Linked DNA regions of Homo sapiens: region 2 is linked to region 1. Evidence: fine-mapped expression QTL. A gene starts in region 1. The other region holds a variant in brackets. All regions are shown on one strand. Distances are between the middles of the regions. Region 1 holds the start of QRFPR (pyroglutamylated RFamide peptide receptor). Region 2 overlaps LOC107986309 (a long non-coding RNA gene).

Region 1 (12,909 bases):
TTTGCCAGCCACTGCTAGAAAATTCTTTTCACTGCCCACGGCAGGATTTGGGGGAGTGCTGCAGAGCTGTGTGTGCACCTGAGGAGACCATCCTCCCTCTGGCTGTGCCGGAATCCACAGCAGGATGAAAGTGGATACAGAACCCAGCAGGATCCTAGCAAGGCCACTACTCCAGGCACACCCCAAACACTCCCCATTTCATCTTCTTAATGCTTAGAGTCATAAAGCAGGCTAGCATTAGAACTGATTTTCTGTCTCCTCCTGGGAAGTGTTCAGAATTAACATTCCTATGCCTTAAGTTTTCATTTACCTCAGCTACCACGAGTCCCATTCTCTCCCAGCCTATCCCTCAACTTTGGACTCAAACCCATCAGACTGTGAACATCCCCTAATCTGATTCAAGCTCCCTACTCCTCAATACTTGCACTGTGTGCTCTGGAACCCTGACATCTACAAAATGCCCTGCATTCTCCATTACTTCTTTGAATGCTTCCTCCCCCTTCTTAGTCTAATGGAAACTTGGCTTTTCCACAGAAACACAGCTTTCTCAATACCTGCAATATCCCAGTGCACACAGGAAATACCCAAGAAATGCTGAATACAGGAATGACTCATAGTGCCATTAATAATACTTTAGACTTTGGGCAGAGGAACAAGATACCATGAGAGAATGAGAGATGCTGGTAATATATTCATGTGTAAGTGCCAAGTCTTCAGATCAGGTGAAAGACCATGGCTTATGATATTGATTAGATACTATTTCAGAACCATCAGCAAAGAAGTGAGAGTCATGACTATAGCCTCTATGCAGAAATTGATGATGAAAGAAAAGAGGTTGCATGCTAAGCTTCAGTGGACACTTACTCGCAAAATAAGAGAAAGATTGAGAACTCTCAAAAGGCAGAAAATACAGAGATAGGGACATAAAGGAAACAAAGAGGCAAAAAAAGACTAGTTCATGGAAACTTAGAGAAGAGAGTGGTGTTCTGCAGCACTGGTCACAAGCAAAATCAGTTCTGTATTTAGCTGGAAGAAACAGAACATGTTCAGTGAGTGAATTTGGAGGAGCATTTGGACATTGTGAAGAAAAAGATAAAAAGGAGGAAAAAACAAAACAAAATGAGGAGGAACAGGCTGCAGATAAGGACAGGTAAATTTGGTGGCCCTAAGGAGGCAATGGACAAATCCACTTCTGCAGTCTAGCCCAGTAAATCAGAGAAGAGAACAGAGACAAAACTTTCCTAAAGGAAAGGGCCATGGCAGAGCAACTCCACCCTCATATGAGTAACAAAAAACTCATAAACATGTGCCATTTATAATATTTGGGTGCAGAGAATCGCCACTTCTGCTAGCTCCATGTTGGAAGGAGTCCTGGGGAGTAGAGAGTGAGTCAACTGGTAGATCAAAGGTAAGCCAATAAGGCAATGATGGTAAGGTGGATGAAAGGAATTGAATGTCAGCTTGCCTCCATGCTGGGCACACTTAGATGCTGTGGATCAGCTGTATCTCTTTCCAACTTTAGTGTAATTCATGTAAAAACATGTTTGTGGCTACACTTTGCCTCACCTATTATTCATGGTCCCAGCAGTGTACAAAAGAAAACTCAATGTCTTTGCTCAGTGGTGTGCTGGGAAAGCAACTGTTTGATTTCTGGGTTTGTTTTTTTTTTTTTTCACTTTTTTAAAAAACAGGCCTAACTAGTAAGTGCTGATTTCCATGATGTGAATACTCCCACCACAACCAGTTTTAAGATAACAACATGATGTCCCTGAAAGGGGACCTGAGTAGAGTTGTGCACACTGGGCTCTGTAAGGCAGTGTGGCTGGCTCCAAAGAGACAAGTGTAACTGGTTTGGGCTGGGGCTGGCGCAGGCCATTTTCAAAAGCCCTTCAGGAGATTCTCTGTGTAGCCAGGTCTAAGAGCCATTACTACTTCAAGTAGTACTTAACAAACTTTTTTTTTTCCTTATAAAGACCTGAGCTGACTTCTCTAGTGCTTATCAAACTTTAATGTGCACGTGAAACAATTGAGAACCTTGTTAAAAAGCAGGTTTTGACTCAATAGGTGCTGCTGGTCCCCAGCAAGAAAGAGGAATGGACTGAAAGAAGAATAAAACAGTCATTCACAGTCTTAGCATTGTCAGAAATATTTGAGAGACAGGCAATGTAGAGATGTGACAAACTGGAAGTCCATGAATTATTTCTGACCAAGCCATAGAGATGTTTTCTTTTACCTGATTGCATTTTACTTTTTGTATTTGACTTAGAAGTCAGCATCATAAAAATCTGTATTCCCAGCTTTTCAGAAGGAGAGGTGGGGAAGCAAGAACAACAACAAAAGAAGATGTGACAATCCTGGGCACCACTCCAGCATGCTGCAATCCTGCCCCCTTTAGAGGAGACAGTCTTCCTTTTGTCGCCGTTGCTTCCTGGTGATCTTCATTGCTTTGTTTGTGTTTCCTACCTCACCCCTGAAGGAATTTGAGGGGTATTCATATTTTAGGTTTTTACATAACTATATATATATATATTTTTTTTTTTTTCCTCCCCAGTTGCACTACTTTTCTGTCTCATTTCCTGCCATTCCCCACATATAACCTGTGCATTCTTGCAATGCCTTGCACGGTATTCTTGGAACACACCATCTTCTTTCTTCCCTCCAACTTGGCACTGACCCCTATTCCTAGAACACACTCCATCCTCTGCTGGAAAGAGTCTAAATTATTCTCTGAATTATTCTTCCAGACCCAGCTTGAACATCACATCCTTCAGGAAGCCTTCCTGACTCTTCTGTGCTCGTAGAGCAAAGTGGATCCTTTTTCTATCAAATCCTGTTTTTGCTCATTTTGGGGCCATCTCCTATTCTCTGAGGTCCTGAAGGGCACAGATAGACTTTACTCACTTTTGTACTCTCAAGGTAGAACACTTTTCCAGATAGGAGATCCTCAATAGCTTTGTAAAATAATAAATTATGAATTAATTTTTGGCTCTTAGATTACATTCTCTTGAACTTTGGTTAATTTATCAAGGAAATTTTGCCATGATTATCCTGTCCTATAATGCGCAAGTTAATTCTATTTTCATATTGATCTCTAGCCCCTCTGCATGCTCTCACCTCTCCCTCGCACTTCAATTTTGGTATTATTTACTCAATTTATAAGATCATTATTTATTCTATAAATCTGGTCCCAGATAAACATAGGCCACCTCCAATTAAACACCCCTTAATAGAATTAATACCTTATACTTTCATGGCATGACCAATATTTTTCAAAGCACTTTTACTAACACACTTTATTCTCACACTAACCCTATAAAATAAATGAGCAATATATTACTCTCCTTCAGTATTTAGAAGCTAAAGTGAAATGTTCTCCATGAAGTAAGAAGCAGGGAGAAAAGAAAACTTGAGAAAAACCTTGGCAGTGCCCAAATAAGCCCTGAGGATGGAAGATGCACCATATGGCCTTTCTTGGCCATGATTCCCCAACATGAACTGGAGCTAAAGATCTGGCTCACTGCACTTTTTTTTTTTTTTTTTTTTTTTGAGACGGAGTCTTGCTCTGTCACCCAGGTTGGAGTGCAGTAGCGTGATCTCGGCTCACTACAACCTCTGCCTCCCGGGGTCAAGCCAAGTCTCCTGCCTCAACCTCCTGAGCAGCTGGGACTATAGGTGCGTGCCACGATGCCCGGCTAATTTTTTGTTGTTGTTTGTATTTTTAGTAGAGACGGGGTTTCACCGTGTTAGCCAGAATGGTCTCGATCTCATGACCTCGTGATCCGCCCGCCTCGGCCTCCCAAAGTGTTGGGATTACAGGCGTGAGCCACCACGCCTGGCCAGACTCACTGCACTTTCAAACTTCTCTAATCCCTAATATTTTACTGAAAAATTGAGACCCAGACATACTAAATTAACATGTATTACAGCCAAAATAGTAATCCAGTTCTTTTGATCCCCACCATAAAATCCCACTTTGCATAATTATTTTCACCTTTACAAATGGAGCTATAATCATCCCCAGCACAAAGAAGCCTCATAAATCTGCTTTCACAAACATTTAGAAATGAAAACTCATGTGCTTTTCCCCAAAAACCAAGTTCCGTATGATGATCAAAAAATACCCCATTAATTTTATGGAGTTAGTTGCACTGAGCAACTTTAAAATGCCCAAATACAATTACTGCATCAGAGTGCATAAGAAAGTCTCTAATCCATAAATCAAGGTCTTACTTTCCACATTGTGTATTACTTTCAAGTCAATGCTCTGTACTCAATGTTTAATGCTTTTTTGAAAATATTTACATTATAGATTGATAAGAATCAAGGACTTTAACATTCTGACTGACTAACAGCAAACTCAGTTTAAGCTAATGAGAAAAAAAGCAATGCTCACGATCTCAAATTGGTAATGGTAGGATGAAACACCCTCCATGAGTTTAAGAGAATTAGTAATGGGATAGAAATAGCAGAGATTGAAGGCATAATGATCTATTTCTCTTACATTTCTAACCATTTTGATGTGGCCACAAGAATACACCCAACCGTGAAAAAGGGGAGGCCCATGGTGCACCTTAAGCACTGGTGAGAATACAACACACTACTGCTCCTGGGTTTACACCAGGGCATTCTCCAGCTGTGTTCTTGGAAAAGCTGGATCATCTCAAGAAATATATCTTTTTTTCCAACCTCCACACACTGCTCCCAACTCAGTGACTCCACCTCTCCTCTGTCATTTTTTTTCCCCCATTATACGGAAGGAGGAGAATGTTATCTCTTCTTTTATAATAGGAGGGCATCAGTTTTCTGTGTTCCTTCTTCCTGCATGACACTTAATACAGTTTTTAAAAGGACTAGTTCAATATATTTTTTCTGCACATGAATTATATTTGTTTTATGCTCATAGGTACAAGAAGCTGTCTGCAAGCAACTGGGAAGTGAGGCTGGAGGGTGGGGGAATGAGGAAATGAGATTTTTAACTTTGGTTTAATTATTTGAAATATTTTTATCTCACTTTTAGTAAGAAAACTAGGGGAGAAAAACCTGGTAATGACGGGAAAGGGAGCTGAAATAAGTGGCGAGGGGTGCGACTTCCTGCCTCACTGCTCGGGACCTTTCCGAAGCTTTTCCCCAACCTATGTCTCTAAGCCACAAGGAGGAAGCACTGGAGGGGAATCAGAGGCGGCCAAAAGAACTTATGTCCAGGTGAACACAGGTGGCGAAGTTCTAAGAAAGAGCACCGGATTCATTTGACAGAGAAGTGTAAGGAAGAGACAGACGAGAGAGAGACAGACAGACGAGAGAGGAGAGAGAGAGAGAGAGAGAGAGAGAGAGAGAGAGAGAGAGAGAGAGAGAGAGAGAGAGAGATCCCCTGAAAGGCAGAGGGTTAAGAGAGAAGGAGCGAAGGAGCGGGGCGCGACTCTTACCCCCCAGCCAGTTGTCGGAAATGTTCTGGAGCATGGTGACGGGAATGCAGAAGAAGGTGATGAGCAGGTCACTGAGCGCCAAGGAGCAGATAAAGATGTTGGTGACGGTGCGCATGGCCTTGCTGCGGGTCACCACGTAGAACACCAGAGCATTGCCAAAGAGCGCCAGGGCGAAGATGAGCACGCCGGTGAGCACGAGGGCCAGCTTGGCGCGTCCCGGCAGCTCTGGGGTGTAGACGAGCGGTCGCAGCCGGTACAGAGCGATGAACTGCTCCCGCGTCAGGTTGTGGTCCCGCAGCAGCCGAGAGAACTGCTCCGGGGTAATGTTAAGCGCCTGCATTGCTGTGCGCTCCCGGGACGCGGGGCCACCGCCCGCTACTGGCTGGCCATCCGCATCTGCGGGGCAGCGAGGGCTTCGGGGGACCAGCCGGAGGCCGCCTCCCTTCCTCTACTCTGGAGTCAGCCGCGCGGGAGGGCTCTAGGCTGCACCCCGGGAGGTTCGGGAAAGGAGAGCAGCTCAGGGATCAAACCCACGATAAAGAGGCGGGAAGCCAAAGCACTGGGAGACTCGATCTCAGTGACCAAAAAATGTTCGCGGTTCAAATAAAGTTCTTCCCTTGCTCTTCCCTAAGGCGAGGCGCCGCCACGGTCTGGGGTGCTGGAGCGCCACGCGAGGGTCCTGGCGCCTCTGGCTCCCCGCCTTCTGGCCATGCGATGCGGACGCCGGACCCGCTTGGGGAGCGGTGGAGGGTGGGGCTGAACTCGGTGACGCCTCCCTCACACCCAGCTTCAGTGGCGCCAACGCCGCTTCCCCGCACCCTCAGGGCGAGGGAAGACTTCCCTGGCTCACCAACTTGCTGCCGCCCAGCGCCTTTCTCAGGGCATGGCCCCAGTCAGGTAATGCTTGTATGTGAAACTGGGTATTGGGGGGTTCCACAGTTTCAAGTTTCTCCTCTTGCGTAATAATGGGAGCCACAACTACCCAAGGCAAATAGGGCTTATTTTAAATTATTTTCTGTATTGAAAAATAATTAAGATAGTTAAAATATAGAACTTGGGAAATGGCAAAGATAATACAGAAAGATCCTGCGTACCCACCCTTCACCCAGTTTCTTTCATTCATTACATCTTATTTAACTACGGAACAATACAAAACCAGGAATTTGACACAGGTACAGTGTTTGCATGTTTTTATCTCAAGTGTAGATTCCCGTAACCGTCAGGATACAAACTCTTCTATCACCACAAAAATCTCCCTGGTGCTTTTTATACTCACACCTAGCCCCTCCCTCCACCATCTCTAACTCCTGGCAACCACTAATATGTTCTCTCTTAACTTTTGTCAGAACATTACGTAAGGGAAATCATACAATATGCTGCCTTTTGATATTGAATTTTCTTCGCTCAGCCTAATGCCCTTTAAATCCATCCAAGTTGTTGCATGTATTAATGGCTGTTTCTTTTTATTGCTGAGGCTGTATCACCGTTTATTTAACCATCCACCTCTTGTAGAACATTTTGGTTGATTACCATTTTGAGCTATTAAAAATAAAGCTGCTATAAAGAATCATGTACAGGTTTTTGTGTGAACATAGTTTTCCTTTCTATAGGAAATGCCAAAAGTTTTGATTATTGAATCTGTAATGTGTATATTTAATTTTTAAAGAGATTGACTACTTTTCAGAGTGGCTGTACAAGTCTCCATCTCTACCATCAATGCATGAGAAGTTACGTTTCTCCACATCCTTGCCAGCATTTGGTTTTGCTGCTTTTTTTTTTTAAGCTATTCTAATAGATCTGTAGTGATATCTCTTTAGGGCCTTAATTTACATTTACCTAATGGCAAGTAATATTGAACATCTCATGTGCTTATTTGCCGTCCTTGAATCTTCTTTGGTGAAATGTCTTTCCATGTGTTTTGTCCGTTTCTAATTGCATGGTTTAGTTTATTTGCTGTTGAAAGTTCTTTTTATATTCTACATACAAGTCCTTTGTTAGTAAACGGTTTGCAAATATGTTCTTCCAGTCTGTAGCTTGTTATTTATCTTCTTAACAGGGACTTTCACAGAACAGCTTTTAGTTTTAGTGAAGTCATATTTATCAATATTTTCTTTTATAGATAGCTTTTAGTGTTCAGTCTAACTTCACCAAAGCCTATTTCTCAAAAACTTTCTCTTAGGTATTTTTCTAAAAGTGTTATAGTTTTACATTTTATGTTTTGGGCTCTCTATTCTGTTGAATTGATCTATGTGTCTATCCTCCACATTCTTGACTACTGTAGCTATATAATAAGTTTTGAAATCAGGTAGCATGATTTCTCATACTTCATTCTTATTTTTCAAAATTATTGTAACTATTCTAGGACCTGTGCCTATTCATATACATTTTACAATCAACTTGTCTATGTCTACAAAAAACCTTGCTGGGATTTTGATAGAAATTGACATATTTACTAGGTTGAGTTTTTCAATCCATGAGAAGAATGTCTTTCCATAAATTTACATCTTTGATTTATTTCAAAGGCATTTTACAGTTTTCAGCATGTAAGTCCTGTACATATTTTTAGATTTGCACCTAAGTATTTCATTTTGGGCGGACATTTGTACACGGTACTGTACTGAATTTCTAATTTTTGGTTCCATGTGTTCATTACTAGTATGCAGAAATCCAATTTATTTCGTATGTTGATCTTGATTCCTCCAATGTTGATGAATTCACTTAATTTTATTAGGAGGTTGATATGATTTGGCTCTGTGTCCCCACCCAAATCTCATCTTGTAGCTCCCATAATTCCCATGTGTTGTGGGAGGGACCAGTGGGAGATGATTGAATCATGGGGGTGGGTCTTTCCACGATGTTCTCATGATAGTGAATGGGTCTCATGAGATCTGATGGTTTTAAAAACAGCAGTTTCTCTGCACAAGTTCTCTCTTTGCCTGCTGCCATCTATGTAAGATGTGACCTATTCCTCCTTGCCTTCCACCTTGATTGTGAGGTCTTCCCAGCCATGTGGGACTGTAAATCCAGTAAACCTCTTTCTTTTGTAAATTGCCCAGTCTTGGGTATGTCTTTATCAGCAGTGTGAAAATGGACTAATACAGAGGGTTTTTTGGTAGATTTCTTGCATAGACAATCACATTATCTGAGAAGAAAGACAGTTTTATTTCTTCCTTTCTGATTTGTATGCTCTTTATTTCTGGTTTTAGCTGTTGTTTGTTTGGTTGTTGTTTTTGTTTTCTTTTGTTTTTTTTTTTTTTTATTTTTTGCCTAACTGCAATGGTTGGAGTACACAGTTTACTATGTTAAATGGCAATGGAGAATGGAGATCATCCTTGTCTTGTCCTCAATCTTATAAGGATGTATTCAGCCTTCTTTCACCATTAAGTATGATGTTAGTTGCAGATGTTCTTTATCAACTTGAGAAGGTTACTGTCTATTCTCAACTTCTTGAGAGATTCTATCAATGGTGTTAAATTTTGTTAAATGATTTTTCTGCATCAATTAATACTATCAATGTGATTTTTTTCTTCAGCCTGTTAAAATGGTGAATTGCATTGATTGACTTTTGAATATTGAATCAGCTTTGAATATTTGAAATAAACCCCATCTTAGTCGTGGTGTGTAATTCTTTATATATATTGTTAAATTCTATTAGTTAGGATTTTAAAGAATTTTATGTATATCTTCATGAGGGCTATTGGTCTGTAACTTTTTTTTCTTTTTGTATTTTTTATCCTGGTTTTGGCAGTCAGGTAATAATAGCATCATAGAATGAATTGAGAAGCATTCTCTCCTTTTCTATTTTCTGGAAAAGACTGTGTAGAAATGGTATTAATTCTTCTTTAAATGTTTGGTAGAAATGGTATTAATTCTTCTTTAAATGTTTGGTAGTATTCTCTAATGAAGCCATGTGGGCATGAAGAGTTCCTTTACAGGTGTTCCTAAATGATGGATTTAATTTTGTTAATAGTATAGTGATATTCAAATTATCTATTCCATATTGGGTGAGTTTTTTTAAGAATTGATAAATTTCTTTTGAATTTATGTGTGTAGAGTTGTTAATAGTATTCTCTTAATATCCTTTGTATGGCTGAAGAGTATCCCCTGTCTCATTCCTGATTTTATAATTTTTGCCTTCTCTCTCTCTTTTGTCAATCTAGTTAGAGGTTTGGCTATTTTATTGCTAGTTACAAAGAAACAATTCTTAGCTAACAACTTCTCTATTATTTTCTCTATTATTTTCTCTTGAATTTTATTGACATCTGCTCTTATCCTTATTATTTTCTTCCTTCTACCTGCTTTCAGTTTATTTTGCTACTCTTTTTCTAGTTTCTTGAGGTGGAAACTTTAATTATTGACTTGGAACTTTTTCTCTTTCCTAATGTAAGCATTTAGTGCCATAAATTTCCCTCTCAGCACTGGCTTAACTGTGTCCCACATGTTTTATGTGTTATATTTACATTTTCATTCAGTTCAATGTACTCTTTAATTTCCTTTTAAATGTCTTTTTTGACCCACGGATTATTTAGAAATGTCTTATTTAGTTTCCAAGTGTTTGAACATTTTTCTGCTATTTTTCTGTTTTCTAGTTTGACTCCCTTTTGGTCAAAGAGCATTCTCTGTATAATTGCATTCTTTTAAATTTGTTGAGGTTTGTTTTATTGCTAAGGATATTATATATTTTGGTATATGCTCCAAGGGCATTTGAAAAGGATGTGTTCATATTGTAACTGTTGAAGGAAACCTAAGGGAAGATGTCCAATCATAACCCATTGTAGGAGCAATGGTTCACAAATGAGTCCAATTCTCTGGACTAGGGGCTGAAAGTTTGGGTCATAGAGGATGGCTCTCGAATTACATAGGAACCACATAGATGGAAGACATGCCCTGCCTCTCCCTGGTCCACAGTGTTGGGATCAAAGAAGGTCAGCAGCATAGCTGCAGGCTGATTCCAGCCCCATGTGACCCAGAGAAGAAATCTCAGGGCTTTCTTAAGGCCAGAGCAGGTCTGGTATGACTATATTTAATTCCTTGTGCTTTATGTGGACATACATTATTGCAGACAGCAATAGTGCTCATCTTTCCCGGTTCTACTCAGCACTCTTCAAAACAAGTAAAGGAGTATAGGGGAACAGGGAAGTGTGAAAAGCAAAGATCAACTCTCATAGTGGCTCCCTAGGATATTTGAAAAGCCTATGAATCCAGATTATGAGAATTATTCTTTGAAATAATGCATGATTGAAGTTAGAGTTTGATTGGAGCTAAGTGTACAAAAAAGTGACATTAGCCTCTAAAGTTTTAAACTCTTTTGGGTCTTCCTCCCTCTATTGATATTGCACTAGTCTTCGTTTTCACGACTTCTCTACACCTCTTCAACCCTCATCTCTTCAACCTCCCAACCCACTTTATCTCAACCACTCACATCTCACTCACCCAGTTCGCTACCTGGTGAAAATACCCCTACTAAGGTAGCCCAAGGCTAATCTCACAAGACACTGCCAGTACTCCTGACCTTTCCTTCTCCCCCTAGAAACTCTTCATGACCATTTCCTGAAATACCTGCTTATTGTTTGAAAACTAGATAAGTACATGAATATTTATGCCTCTATTCAATAACGTTTTTGGATGTCTGCTGCATGCCAGGCACTGTGTTCATCATTAAGAGTAGTATGGTGAAGAAACAGACCCAGTCTTAAGGGGTAACTCCCACAAGGGCATGCAACACAGCTCAGCCTTTGGGGAGCTCATTATCAGTTCAGGGTCAACAAACTACAGCCTGGGCCAAACATGGTTCACTATCTGTTTTTGTATAGCTCATGGGCAAGGAATAGTTTTCACATTTTCAAATCATTTTTAAAAAGCATAAAGAGAATATATTTCATGGCACATAAAATTGTATGAAATTCAACTTTCAGTGCCTGTAAAAATAAAAACATTTTACTGGAACATATCATGCCCATTCATCTACATATCATCCTTGGCTGCTTTCACACTACTATGGCACAGTTGCATATTTGTGATAGAGACTGTATGGTTTTCAAAGCAGAAAATATTTACTCTGTGACCCTTTGCAGAAGCAGTTTGCCAGCCCCATCTTGTTAGAGGGGCAAGAGGGACAGAAATATTCATAGCTCAAAATAAGGTGACAAGTGCCACATCCACACACAGAAAGAACATGTTCTGGAAATTCAAGCAAAGGCAAATCCATACATGCTGTGTGGGGAATGTGGAGTGTAAATCAAGGCTAAAAGGAAGGATAAATTGAAAAAGAGAAAGGTCACAGAGTGAGTAGCCTCTCCAAAGGCACAGAAGTAGGAATGATTATGTTAGAGAGAGGGATAAAGCGAGCCAGAAAGGCAGGATTGGCTTCTGATGCTTATTGGCAATTCTCATGATTAGAAAACAACAGTGACAGAGGGTCCATTTTCCAAAATAAACAAGCTAACAGGGTGAAGAAGAATCGCCAAAGAGCTTTCTACCCTCAAAGATAGGAACATGGAAGAAAGTATCTGGATAAATACAAAAGGAGAGGCAACTAGTAATTTTATGAGACTGTCTGCACTTTATCTTGTCAGTGAAATGTTGCAATAATCAAACCTTCCTTAGAAAAGATTACCAAATTGTCAGAGATGGGGAGTTCACTAGATGTTTGCTAAAGGTATAAGTAGTCTAAAGGCATAGCATGTGGTGTTTTCCTCACTTTCCTGAGAATTTTGTCTTTCAGAAGGAAAAAGTTTCTGGGAGACTTGGTTTTCTGTTCTTAATTCTGCCCAATGAGGAAAGAGTTGATACTAAGGTGGAAGTGACAGAAGCTTGAGAAGCTGCCAACTCTGAGGGAGATGAGGTAGAACATACTACATATTGTCAGATAGGGATTCTAAGCTTCAAGAAACCAAGTTAATGATATTTAGAAAAGATTGTATGATCTCTTGGCTATAGTTTCTAAAATGTAAGCTGAATAAAGAGGACTGAGGAGCTTTAAAATTTCTGACACCATAGTAGCAGAGTATCTCAATGAGAAATTTTAAAAAGCAGGGGTAGTAGCCACAGTATGCTACAAGTTTGCATGGAATCAATATTCTGGACTCTGCTACAGAGCAGGAATTTTATAAATTATATGAGGGATGTGTGTGTGTGTATACATGTATATATATATGTTTATTTATGTATACGAACAGATACAAAAATATCTAAAAAGAGTAATTTCAGGAAGCCCAGAATAAATTGATTTTTTGTGAAAAGTGCTTTCAGCAAAAGAGAGAGAATGAGAGAGATTATGTAATTGTATATATTGGGTATTTTTATCCATGTTAATTACCATAATAAAAGACTGGAGGTAACTTATGTTTAAAAAATAATTGCACCTAAAGATTGCACAAAAAACTGCTATGACTCGTAAGCAATTCTAGCAAAGTTACAGGATACAAAATCAACACACAAAAATAAGTTGCATTTCTATACACTGACAAGAACAACATGAAAAGGA
Region 2 (12,909 bases), 130 kb after region 1:
ATGTTGAGTGTTTAAGTGACTCAAATATATGACTAAATTACACAAATGGGAGAATTATGGAGATAAGACAGAATGTAAACGTTACAAACTTTTAAACTGACAGTTAATAAATGACAGTTTGTAATGTAATAAAAATGAGATGGATGAGATGAGAATTGGAAGTATAAATGTACCAATTTCTTCAACTTTATAGCAGTATCAACAACCACAACTCAAAGTTGAGTAGTATAGTTAAAAATAATTATTCAAGCATCAAAGTTATCTATTAATCATTTTCCCTTAATAAGAAGGATATCGCAAAAACTACAATCACTTATAGTCAGAAGCTATCTAAAGTTTTTCATTAACCATAGTCATTATGTTATAACAACAGATCACTTGAACTTATTCCTCCTGTCTAACTTATATATCCTTTGACCAACATCTCCCTAACTCTTCTTTCCCCCATCCATCCCAGCCTCTGATAACCATCATTCTACTCTATAATTCTATGTGATCAACTTTTTTACATTCTGCATATGAGTGAGATTATGAAGTTATTTGTCTTTCTGTGCCTGGCTTATTTTCCTTAACATAATGTCTTCCAGTTTCATCCATGTTGGGATAAATTGCAGGATCTTCTTTTCTGTGGCTGAATAGTCTTGTATTGTGTATGTATGTGTGTGTGTGCATGTGTGGTTGAATACTAGTCTAGTGTGTGTGTGTGGCTGAGTAGTATTCTTGTGTGTGTGTGTGTCTGAATAGTATTCTAGTGTATGTATGTATGTGTTGCTGAATAGTATTCGTGTGTGTCTGTGTGTGTGTGTGTCTCTGAATAGTATTCGTGTGTGTGTGGCTGAATAGTGTTTGTGTGTGTGTGTGTGTGTGTGTGTCACATTTTCTATATCCATCCACCCATCCATGGACTCTTAGGTTGATTTCATATCTTGGCTATCGTGAATAATGCTGCAATAAATGTGAAAGTGCAGGTCTCTTTGACATGTTGATTTCATTTCCTTTGGATATATACCCACTAGTGGGATTGCTGTATCATATGGTAGTCCCATTTTTAATTTTTCTGAGGAACTGCCATATTATTTTACATAATGACTGTATTCTTAAAAAATGCTTAAAAAGTGGATATTAAGTGTTCTTGCCACAAAAATGATAAATATTTGAGGTAATTTATATATATGAGGTAATACGCGTTTGTTAATTAGCAAGATTTAACCATTCCACAATAAGTAAAAAATTGTATATGTCAGTTTAAAATTTTTAATTTGCAAAAAAATAGTTTATCAGTTCCTTGAGTTTTATTTCTTTCTATGCAAGTAACAAAGTTTAATACTTCTTAGTAAAAATAAAATAATATAAATTATAAATGTTTTTTAAATGAACTAGTCTGTGTGTGTGTGCATGTGTGTGTGTGTGTGTATTCATATAAGTCCCCTCACAGATGTCTAAAATGACAGTCACTGAATTTTGCTAAAAGATATATGAAGTTGGTCAGATTTGGAAATTATTATTTTGCCCTCAACTCCACACTTCTCTGTATTGCTTGTTTATAACCTTCTTTTATAATATTTCTCATTTGTAAAATCATTTTTATAAAATGATAGGATCATAATTTTGTAAAAGAAAGAGAAAAAACATTAATAGGTAAGAAAAGAAGAAATTAAATTGTCAGAAATATAAAATGCTGTCAATAAATAAATTAATATAATAATCTAAAAATATTCACCATATTTAGTAATAAGGAGGTCATGATGACATGAGAAAAGTTCCTATGGAAGGGAGGGTGCAAGAACTAACCTGAAATGGACAGAGGAATACAATCCTGTGTCACTTAACAATGGGAATACATACTGAAGAAATGTGTCCTTAGGTAATTTTGGTTTTGTGCAAACATCATAGAGTGTACGTGCACAAACCTAAATGATACAGCTTACTACACACCTAGGCTACATGGTATATAGCATATTGCTCCTAGGCTACAAACCTATATGTTACTATACTCAATACTATGGGAAATTATAACACAATGGTATTTTTATCTAAACTTAGAAAAGACACAGTGAAAATACAGTTTAAAAAATTAAAAGATGATACGCCTGTATAGGGAAACTAACATGAATGAAGTTTGCAGAACTGGAAGTTTCTCTGGATGTGTCAGTGAGTAAGTGGTGAGTGAATCAAGGCCTAGGACATCATATTACTATAGAATTTATAAGCACTATACCTTTATGATATACTACATTTATTTTTAAAACAAAGTAATTACACTATGCCATTATGACGGCTACCATGTCACTAGATGATAGGAATTTTTCAGCTCCATTATAATCTTATGAGACCACTGTCACTTATGTTTTCTGTCACTGGCTGAAATGTCATTATACAGCACATGACTGTAAATGGAAGATGAGGAACAGAGGTAGTGGTGGAGAGTGTGTTAAACTTTTCACATGTTACACCTTAAGATGTTAAGTTACACCATATGATCTTAAAGTAATTCATTATCTTAAACTTTTAATTTTCTGAGTAAAAAAAGATACCTGCATTTTTGAACATTTACTTTTAATAGTGCTACATTAAATACTATTTCAACCTATTCATCCACTGTATTCAATATGTAGTAGAGTTACAATTCTCTTTCAGGAGTCTGTAATTTCCTAGGCATTGTATTATGCATATTTACAGTAGCACTTGTATCCCTAAGGCAATTATATCATAAACTAATCTTTGTAGTTTTCTCACTGTTTGCTAAAGGCTATTTCTAATCCTTATCTTCATATTTGGCTATAGTTTTGCCCTTATTTGTCAATCTAGTAACTCTAAGAAAGATTATTAGAGGTTCAATTGTCATGACATTCTGTTAGTACATATAGCATAGTAAGTAAAATATTTTACTTATTTGTGTCTAGAAGCCTCAAATATTTGTCTAATAATCAGTCCTGGAATATAGCATAATACATATTAAGCTTATTGATCTATAGCAGTCTTCTGTTATAGTAAGCCCTTTTTGAAAATTAAAAGAAATATTTTTTTCTATCTTTTCACATCTACATTCATGAATTCTAAAATATTTTACCCAAGGACTATGAAATTATATTTAGCAGAGTCATTGTTGATCCAAGCATTTGTGTCTCTACACTGAAGAAACTAGGATAATGTTTAGAAAAGTTTTACATTAATTTCACACATTTCACAGATTTGCAGGCAAATTAGGAGGTATTATAACATATTAAGTCTTACAAAATTTATCTTATTTTCTGTAACTCTAATTTTTTACACTTTTTTCTGCCATTTTTAATTTGAATTTTCTGATTTTCTATAAAAGATAAAATCAACACTTCATTCAAGCAATTATCATGTTTTACTGAGCATTGGGAAAAAATTATATTTTTAAAATATTTGAAGAGTAATGATATGGTTTGGCTTTGTGTCCCCACTCAGATCTCATCTCAAATTGTAATCCCCCAATTCAGATCCTGCTCCTGCTTTGTATGAGCTGCAAACCAGGAGCCACTGACTTCACCTCTCGGAGGCTCCAGTTACTCATCTGTAAAGCAGAAGCAGCAGCATCTACCTCACAGGGTTGTTAAGGGGATCACCACTTGACACCAAAGGTGAAAACATGGTCTGTGAGTGGCAAAGCCATTTTACAGTCAGCCAGTTCTGCATTACTGTGATGGGAACACCAGCCCTTCACAAACTGCACTTTCTGCTCAGCATCTAAATAGAAAGTCACCCTGTGAACCTACGTGCTGTCTCCTCTCTCCCCTCATAGTCCCAGCAGAGCTTCCAGGAGGGGGGTCATTGAATCTGGCTGTCTGTATTTCCTCCTCTCCCACTCACCTGGGACTCTCCTCTGGTTAGGGGCACTGATGGCCCCCACATTGCTGCTGTCTTTATCATCCTTGACTTTGGCTGTATTAGACCAGCTGGCCATGCCCTATGGCCTGAAACTTACCCTCCTCTGCTCCTTCCAGGTGACATGCTCCTGGTGTCCTCCACTGCTCAGGCCACCCTTTTGCAGCCTCCTTTCTAGGCCCCTCCCTTGTCTCTCTTCTGATGCTCCACACTCATGGCTGGGTTCCACGAGGGAGCCCAGGCCATTTCCACTGCTCTATCCCCTCTCCTAAGCACCAGAACTTGCAATCAGCCTGTTCCCACCTAGAGACCCCCACTTAGATGTCATCCCCAAGCTCAGCTGTCCATAGCTGGCCGCTCCTCTTATCTGGCCAGTCGTGTCACTTCTCCTGTGTAAGCAGCCCATGAATCTCATCAGTGATCTGGTGTGAGCTTTGATCACCTACCAAGACCAGTCCCTGATCCTGCTTTTCTCCCTCCATCTCTTGCTTTCTATGTATCTGAGTCTCAGATGGTGGCTACATAATCTCTCACCTGGAAGTTGCCACCTGCTCTTAGCAACCAAGCTAGGCTTTCTAAAATACAAGTCACTGCTCTGCCTAAAACTCATCTGGGTTTCCAGTGACCCTCAAGATAAAGTCCAATGTCTTTCCCTTGTGTTCAAAGCACACCCACTTTGGCCCCTGCCTGTGCCTCTAAGCTTCTCCTTTCCCAGCCTCCTCACCCCTCACACTATCCTTTACTGCTGCCAGACCAGGGCTTTTCCTGATCTTATGCCATTACTTGGCCTGTGGCTTTCCTCTCAGACCTCACCACCACTGTGACTGTGTATTGATGCGGGTGTAGGTTAGCTCCACAGGGCAGGGGAATCCCAGTGCTCAGCATGGGGCCTGGCACATAGCAGATACTTAATAAATGACAATGGTGGTTTTACAACCAATCCCCCAGAAATATAGAAGATTCTCAGAGGCTATTAGGAACATTTCTATGCACACAAACTAGAAAATCTAGAGGAAATGAATAAATTCCTAGAAACACACAACCTCTCAGGATGTGTAAGGAAGAAACTGATACCCTGAACAGACCCATATTGATTTCTGAAGTTGATTCAGTAATAACAAAACCTACCAACCAAAAAAGCCCTGAACCACATAATTTCACATCCAGACTCTACCGGATGTGCAAAGAAGAGCTGTTACCAATTCTACTGAAACTATTAAAAATAATCAAGGAGGTGGGACTCCTCCCTAACTTAATCTATGAAGCCAGCACCACTCTGATACCAAAATCTGGCAAAGACACAACTAAAAATACAAGCCAATATCCCTGATGAACGTAGATGCAAAAACCCTCAACAAAATACTTGCAAACCAAATGCAGCTGCAAATCAAAAGGTTAATTCACCACAATCAAGTAGGCTTTATTCCTGGGATACAGGACTGTTCCAACATATGCAAATTAATAATTGTGATTCACCACATAAATAGAATTTTTAAAAAGCCATCCGATCATCTCAATAGATGCAGTAAAAGCTTTTTAAATATAAAATCTAGCATCTCTTCATGATAAAAATCCTCAACAAACTAGGCATTGAAGGAACATACCTCAAAAGAATAAAAGCCATCTATGACAATCCCACAGCCAACATCATGCTGAATAGGCAAAAGGTGGAAGCATTTTTCTTAAGAACAGAAAGAAGAAAAGTATTCCCACTCTTATGACTCCCAGTCAACATAGTACTGAAAGTCCTAGCCAGAGCAATTCGGACAAGAGAAATAAATAAAATGCATCTAAATATGAAAAGAAAAAGTCAGATTATCTCTCTTCACTGATGATATAATTCTATACCTAGAAAACCCTAAAGACTCCTCCAAAAGGCTCCTAGAACTGATAAATAACTTCACTAAAGTTTTAGGATTTGAAATCAGTGTACAAAAATCAGTAACATTTTCATACACCAATAATATTCAAGCTGAGACTCAAATAAAGAATGCAATCCCATTTACAGTAGCCACAAAAAGAAAAAAAGAATATACTTTGGAATACATTTAACCAAGGAGGAAAACAATCTCTACAAGGAGAACTACAAAACACTGCTGAAAGAAATCGGAGATGATACAAACAAATGGAAAAATACCCCATGCTCATGGATTGAAAGAATCAATACTGTTAAAATGGCTATACTGCCCAAAACAATCTACAGATTCAACACTGTTCCTGCCAAACTACCAACATCATTTTTCACAAAACTAAAAAAAAAATGCATCCCAAAGTTCTCATGGAACCAAAAAAGAACCTAAAAAGCCAAAGCAATTCTATACAAGAAAAACAAAGCCAGAGACATCACACTACCCAACTTCAAGCTACAATACATTACAGTAACCAAAATACCATGGTACTAATACAAAAACAGACACATAGACTAATAGAACAGAATAAAGAATCCAGCAATAAAGCCACACACCTACAGCCATCTGATTGAAACAAAGTTGACAAAAATAAGCAAGGGGGAAAAGCTCCCTATTCAATAAACGATGCTGGGATAGCTAGATAGCCACATACAGAAGAATAAAACTGGACTCCTACTTTTCACCATATACAAAAATTAATTGAATATGGATTAAAGACCTCGAACTATAGAAATCCTAGAACAAAACCTAGGAAAAACCATTGTAGACATCAGCCTTGGCAAAGAGTTTATGACTAAGTCCCTAAAAGCAATGGCAACAAAAACAAAATTGATAAGTGGGACCTGATTAAACTAAAGAGCTCCTGCACAGCAAAAGAAACTTCAACAGAGTAAACAGACAAACTTCAGAATGGGAGAATATATTGCAAACTATGTGTATTAGTCAGGGCTCTCTAGAGGGATGGAACTAATGGAATATATATATATATGTGTATATATATATATATATATATATATATATGTAAAGGGGAGTTTATTAAGTATTAATTCACATGATCACAAGTTCCCACAATAGGGCATCTGCAGGCTGAGGAGGAAGGAGAGCCAGTCCGAGTTGCAGAACTGAAGAACTTGGAGTCCAATGTTCAAGAGCAGCAAGCATCCAGCACAGGAGAAAGATGTAAGCTGGGAGGCTAGGCCAGTTTCTCTTTTCATATTTTTCTGCCTGCTTATGTTCTACCATGCTGGCAGCTAACTAGAATTGTGCCCACCCAGATTAAGGGTGGGTCTGCCTTTGACTCAAA[C/T]GTTAATCTCATTTGGCAACACCCTCACAGACACGCCCACGATCAATACTTTGTATCCTTCAATCCAATCAAGTTGACACTCAGTTTTAACAATCAAAAGTCCATTCTTGTCAACTTGAACCCATACACATTTTCTGAGATCATACGTAATTTTCAAATAAAGACAATAATAAGGTCATAATTATGCCTAACATAATACAACTGTCCTATGTACAACTGGAAATGCACCAATCCCCAACCTAGTAACTATTACATAAATTTAACAATACTTGAATTGCAGTCAATAAATCTTATGTCATATTATAAAGGAAAAAGGAAATAAAGTGAAGATATGTTCTTACTACAAATGTATACATGCACAAACACGTTTTTAACAAAAGAAGGAGGGAATACTTATGACAATTACAGTCCTCATTTCTGCAGCTGGTCACATGGTCATAGTTGGTATTGATGACTATCTTCTTCTACTACCCATTCTGTATTCCCTTTGCCTTCAGCAAGCACCTCAGCAGCTCATGGTTTTTTTTCCAAGTGGAGTGACCAAAACCTTCATTCCTGTAGGGTCTGGGTCATTTGTAGTCCTGCCTGGATTGGGCTGTTGTAGTTTCCCATTGACCTTAATCACAGGGCATGGTAATACTAAGAGATGCCCTAATGGATCTCCTGTACTCCATGAATACTCTTTCTTACCTCCATTATGGAGTAGTAGACTGATTTCATCTTGATAGTCTGGGTCAGTCACCCCAGCCAACACTGTAACTCCCTTCTTAGCCTGTTGACTTAAAGCTAGGAGGAACCCAAAGTGTCCAGGTGGCAATCTTAACTTCCAGTTTAATGGAATAATTGTTGTGATTCCTGGTAGCAGCGTTCCTCCCTCTGGAACTAAGACCTCTAGGCCAGCAGAATGTAATGTCATGGGAACAAAAAGCAAAAATTTTGCTAGTGGATCACTAGAGGTGATGGTGAGTGGTGCCACTTCCACTTCCATCCCTTGATTCCTAGACCAGTGAATCCTGGCTATAGGAGAAACAATATCATATATTGGATGTTGATCCAGAGCATACACAACCTTCTAGAGAACTTTGCCCCAGCCCTGCAAAGTATTGTCACCTAGTTGGAATTGTAATTGTGACTTCAAAGGCCATTCCACCATTCTACCAATCCAGCTGCTTTATGATGATGGGGAACATGGAAAGACCAGTGAATTCCATGAGCATGAGCCCACTGCCTCACTACTTTAGCTGTAAAGTGAGTGCCTTGGTCAGAGGCAACACTGTGTGGAATACCATGATGGTGGATAAGGCATTCCATGAGCCCACAGATGGTAGTCTTGGCAGAAGCATTGTGTGCAGGATAGGCAAACCCATATCCAGAGTAAGCGTCTATTCAGGCGAGGACAAACCTCTGCCCTTTCAATGATGGAAGGTTTTGGCCTCCCTCTCCCTGTGCAAACTGGTAAAAGGCCTTGGGATTTTTGAGCTATCCTTACCCGCCTCCCTACTTGTTTGATTTTGATACATGTTTTCTAATAACCTGGTTTTTCTCTTTTCACCTTCAGGCCAGCAAACTCCACACAGTCATGCAACCAGAGCCTCAGACAATGGCCCCTTCTGCTGAGGACCCTTAAATAAGCTTCTGAGGGAGACTGCCGTTTTCCCAAAACAGCGCCCCCTGTCAGCAGGAAGCAGTTAAGATCAGTCTTCGTCCTTATCCTTATCCTTATTCTAATGGCAGTTAGATGTACTTCTTCAGAGTGGCAGAATTAGGTAGCCAAGTAAGAAGCGCCCCCTGGCAGAACCTCTGACCAGCTTGCCCACTGGGAGGAGTGCGCACTGGGGTGGAACGTTGGAAAGTTCACACCATTTGCATGGGGGAGGAGCCTGGCCTCTCCTGATGTGGGGCGGTAACCTGGGATTCAATCTGTGAGGTGGGAAGCCAGCTAGCGAGACTCTCACTTCGCCGAGTGTCTCTGTTTCCCTTTTTTCCTTTTCACCCAATAAATTCCATTTTTCTCACCCTTCAAATTGTCTGCGGGGCTAATCTTTGATGGTCAAGTGACAAGAACCTGGCTTTTAGCTGAACTAAGGAGAAAGTCCTACAACAAACATTAGGATAGTGCTGAGGGGAAATGTGGGGTTGGAGCCCCCACACAGTCCCCACCAGGGCACTATCTAGTGAAGCTGTGGCAATGGGGCCACTGCCTCAATAGCTAAGAATGGTAGAGCCATCAGTAGCTCGCACCCTGAGCCTGGAAAAGCCGCAGTCACTCAAAGCCAACATGTGAGACCAGCCACAGGGGCTGACCTGTGAAAAGTCACAGAGGCAGAGCTGCCCAAGGCCTTGTGAGCCCACCCTTTGTACCAGTGTGCCCTGGATGCAGAACATGGAGTTAACAAGATTATTTTGGACATTAAGTTTGAATGTTTGCCCTGCTGTGTTTCAGACTTGCATGGAGCCTGTTGCACCTTCCTTTTGGCCAATTTCTCCCTTTTGGAATGGGAATGTTGACCCAATGATACTATTATACAATGATACTATTGTATTTTGGAAGTAAATAACTTGTTTTTGATCTGACAGGCTCATAGGTGGAAGGAACTTACCCTGAGTCTCAAGTGAGGCTTTAGACTTTTGAGTTAATGCTGAAATGATTAAGACTTTGGGGGACTATTGCAAAGGGATGATGCATATTGCAATGTGAGGAGGACATAAGATTTGGGGGGCCAGAGGTTAAATGATATAGTTTGGATGTTTGTCCCCTCCAAATCTCATGCTGAAATATAATCCCCAATGTTGGAGGTGGGGCCTGGTGGGAGGTGTTTGGATCATGGGGGTGGATTCTCATGAATGTTTTGATGCCATCCTCACAATAATCAGTGAGTTCTCCCTCTATGAGTTCACACCAGATCTGGTTATTTAAAAGAGCCTGGAACTTCCTCTTCACTCTCTTGCTTCCTCTCCCACCATGTGATACACAGCATCCCCCTTCGCCTTCTGCCATGATTGTAAGCTTCCTGAGGCCCTTACCAGAAGCAGATGCTGGTGCCACACTTTCTGTACAACCTGCTGAGCTATGAGCCAAAATAAACCCCTTTTCTTTATAAATTCCTGAGACTCAGATATTCCTTTGTAGCAACGCAAAGAGACTAACACAATATATAAATAAATGTATATTTGCATACATCTAAAACAATGCTTGAAATTATGTGGAGTTTCCATATTACTAACATCATATGGATTAGACTTGAAGATAAAAACCTGGATCATTGTTCTACACTAAATGTTACAAGCTAAGTTGAGCAATTACTAAACTGCCTCATCTATAAAACTAATGACCTCTCTTGGCTAGTGTATGAGTTCCTAGTGCAGTAACTCAAAACCCCTCTAGGTATTTTAAACAGATTTAACAATGGGAATTAGGTGCTTAAAAAATCTTTAGAAAAACAAGCAGGCTTTGATTCTAAGCTTCCAAGAATGACCCCCGCAGAATATTACAGATATGACATACCTGTAGAGCTGCTAATTCTGACACAGGTGAACAATTAGGAAGCTGTTCATGAAAAATTGAATTTTATAATGCATCACCGTAAGTTGTGATAAAACAGGAAACCACCACTGCTCCAATAGCAAGTGTCTCTTGACAACCATACAGCCATTGTGTGGGCATTCTAATACTACCGCAGGAAAACTCACGTCAATAACTCTGCTTGCCAGCAGAAAATGATCAAATTAAAAAGCAGTAGGAAAATGGCTTCTATCTTCCTTCTATCTCCCAAATCAGATTTCAGTGCATTTAATCATGAAACCCCATTTGCATCAAAAACACCTTTTAAAAATATGCGTTATAGCTTTCCAGCCCCTACAGTACAGGAAGCCACAATAAGAGCTCATGAGAATAGATGCTGATTTATCAGTTGACATTGCAAAGACATTTGGCTTAGTTGCTGCTGAGTCCACACATCAGTCACTTTTTAAGAAAATCTGAGGAGTTAAGTGGGACCTTGAAGTATCTTAAGAATAGTAAACACAGCTTAGCAGCCTGCTCAGGGAGAAACATCGGAAACCAACACATTTGGGAGGTCAGTAGTGGTGACAAGTACAAATATAATTTGTACTTTGTGTCTGCCAAATATAATTATGCCTGACTCTACCTAACCTCCAATGGCACATAATTGTAGCTATAATTTTAAGAAATCTCCAACGTCATGTTATACAAGTATATTTTTATTGTTATTCTTATTGATGATAGCATTATGCAAAATAGTATTTTAATTCTGTGATTCTCTATCTTGCTTTCACTCTTTCTTTGAACTCCATCTTCCCTGATTTTTCTCCTCCTCCCTTCTTGCTTAGTTCTAATGCTTATTAAAATATTTACTTCAGTGTGAGTGTTATGTAGAAGACCATCTGTGAACGCTAGTGCCAGGGGCATAATACAAAAGTAATTTGGGGAGAAATAATATGAAGACCCTAAGAATACTAGCCTTGTGATTTCCTTCTCAGAGAGCATGAATCACTCATCTGCCTTTGCTCCTGATGCAATTCAATAAGCCAGAGTTTGTTATTGAATGTGTTCCACTAAACTTATAGAACACATTTGTTGAATAAGTGGTGACAGTTGGTGCTTCCTCCCATCAGCTATTTTGCCATATAATGAGCAAAGCTTTCCATATTGTGTGGCTTTCTATAAACATTAAATTTTCTTCTGTTTGTATACATTGAGCCTGTGTGTAGATGACCGTATTTCCCTACTGACTCTGTGTTGTTTTGGAAGATGTTGCATTCCAAATGCATTGACTCTTCAAAACAGGAAGTCTTATTTTTGAAAGTGTAGCATTTTCTTCATAAATTAATACAATTTGGGGTCACCATTACAGTTTACTTTTGGGAGCTGTGAAGTAGCTATGACGGAATTTTTTTTCAATATCGAACTATGAACTTTATTTTAAATTTTCTGAAGATTAAATGGAGTGGTTTTGAAAGTAGAATTGTACTGATTTTTTCCTTGTATCTATTTCTTCCATTGCACTGGAGTTGAATTAGTTTATAAGCAATAACATAATGTAAAATTCATCCAGTGTTTCAGAATCCTACTTTTACAGAGTCTAAAGCCATAGTTGTTTGATTGGGGAAGGGAAGTAGCACTATTTGATTCTGCCAAGCCGTAATTACACCAGTATTCCAAGTTCTTGACATCCATATTTTTAAAAACAATAGCTTTATTGAGATGTAATTCACATACCATACAATTTACCCACTTAAATTAAATAATTTTGTGACTTTTAGTATACCCACAGTTGTGCAACCATCATCACTATTTAATTTTGGAGCAATTTCATTATCCTAAAAGCAAACTCCATACCCATTAACAGTCACTTCCACTATCTTTCTCCCCAACTCCTGGAAACCACTAATCTACTTTCAGTCTGTATAGATTTGCCTATTCTGAACATTTCATGTAAATATAATTATATAATAAGTGAACTTTTGTGTCTGTCTTCTTTCATTTAGCAGAATGTTCACAAAGTTCATCCAGTTGTAGCATGTATTAGTAGTTTATTCTTTTTATTGCTGAATAATATTCCTTTACATAGATATACCATATTTTGTCTAGCCATTTATCATTTGGGTTGTTTCCATTTTTTAGCCATTATAAATAACACCACCATAAACATTCGTGTGAGTCAAAGAGGATGGTAGAGGGATTTTGTTGTTATTATCAAGAGTCATCTTTTGTGCCCAAATGAAGTATTATTATTATTTTTTGTTTCCTACTCACTCCTTACCTGTAATCTTTCTTTCCTCCCTTCCTTTTTAAGTTTCTACCTTCTCTTCCTTCACTAAATA

What was found. PIP is the estimated chance that this variant, and not a neighbour inherited with it, causes the effect.
Region 2: its variant is fine-mapped to the expression of QRFPR in prefrontal cortex (GTEx, PIP 0.97).

Annotation. Positions count from the first base shown.
Region 1 is chr4:121,374,885-121,387,793 of GRCh38, forward strand. It overlaps QRFPR (pyroglutamylated RFamide peptide receptor), which reads right to left and starts at 6,134. Exons shown (of 6, transcript NM_198179.3): 1 at 5,424-6,134. The coding sequence starts at 5,763. RefSeq lists an enhancer at 5,920-6,704.
Region 2 is chr4:121,505,805-121,518,713 of GRCh38, forward strand. It overlaps LOC107986309 (a long non-coding RNA gene), which reads left to right. Exons shown (of 3, transcript XR_001741806.2): 3 at 8,624-9,807. Among named protein-coding and RNA genes, the nearest start is that of QRFPR, 130 kb to the left of the region's middle. The variant C/T (reference allele first, on the strand shown) is at 7,066.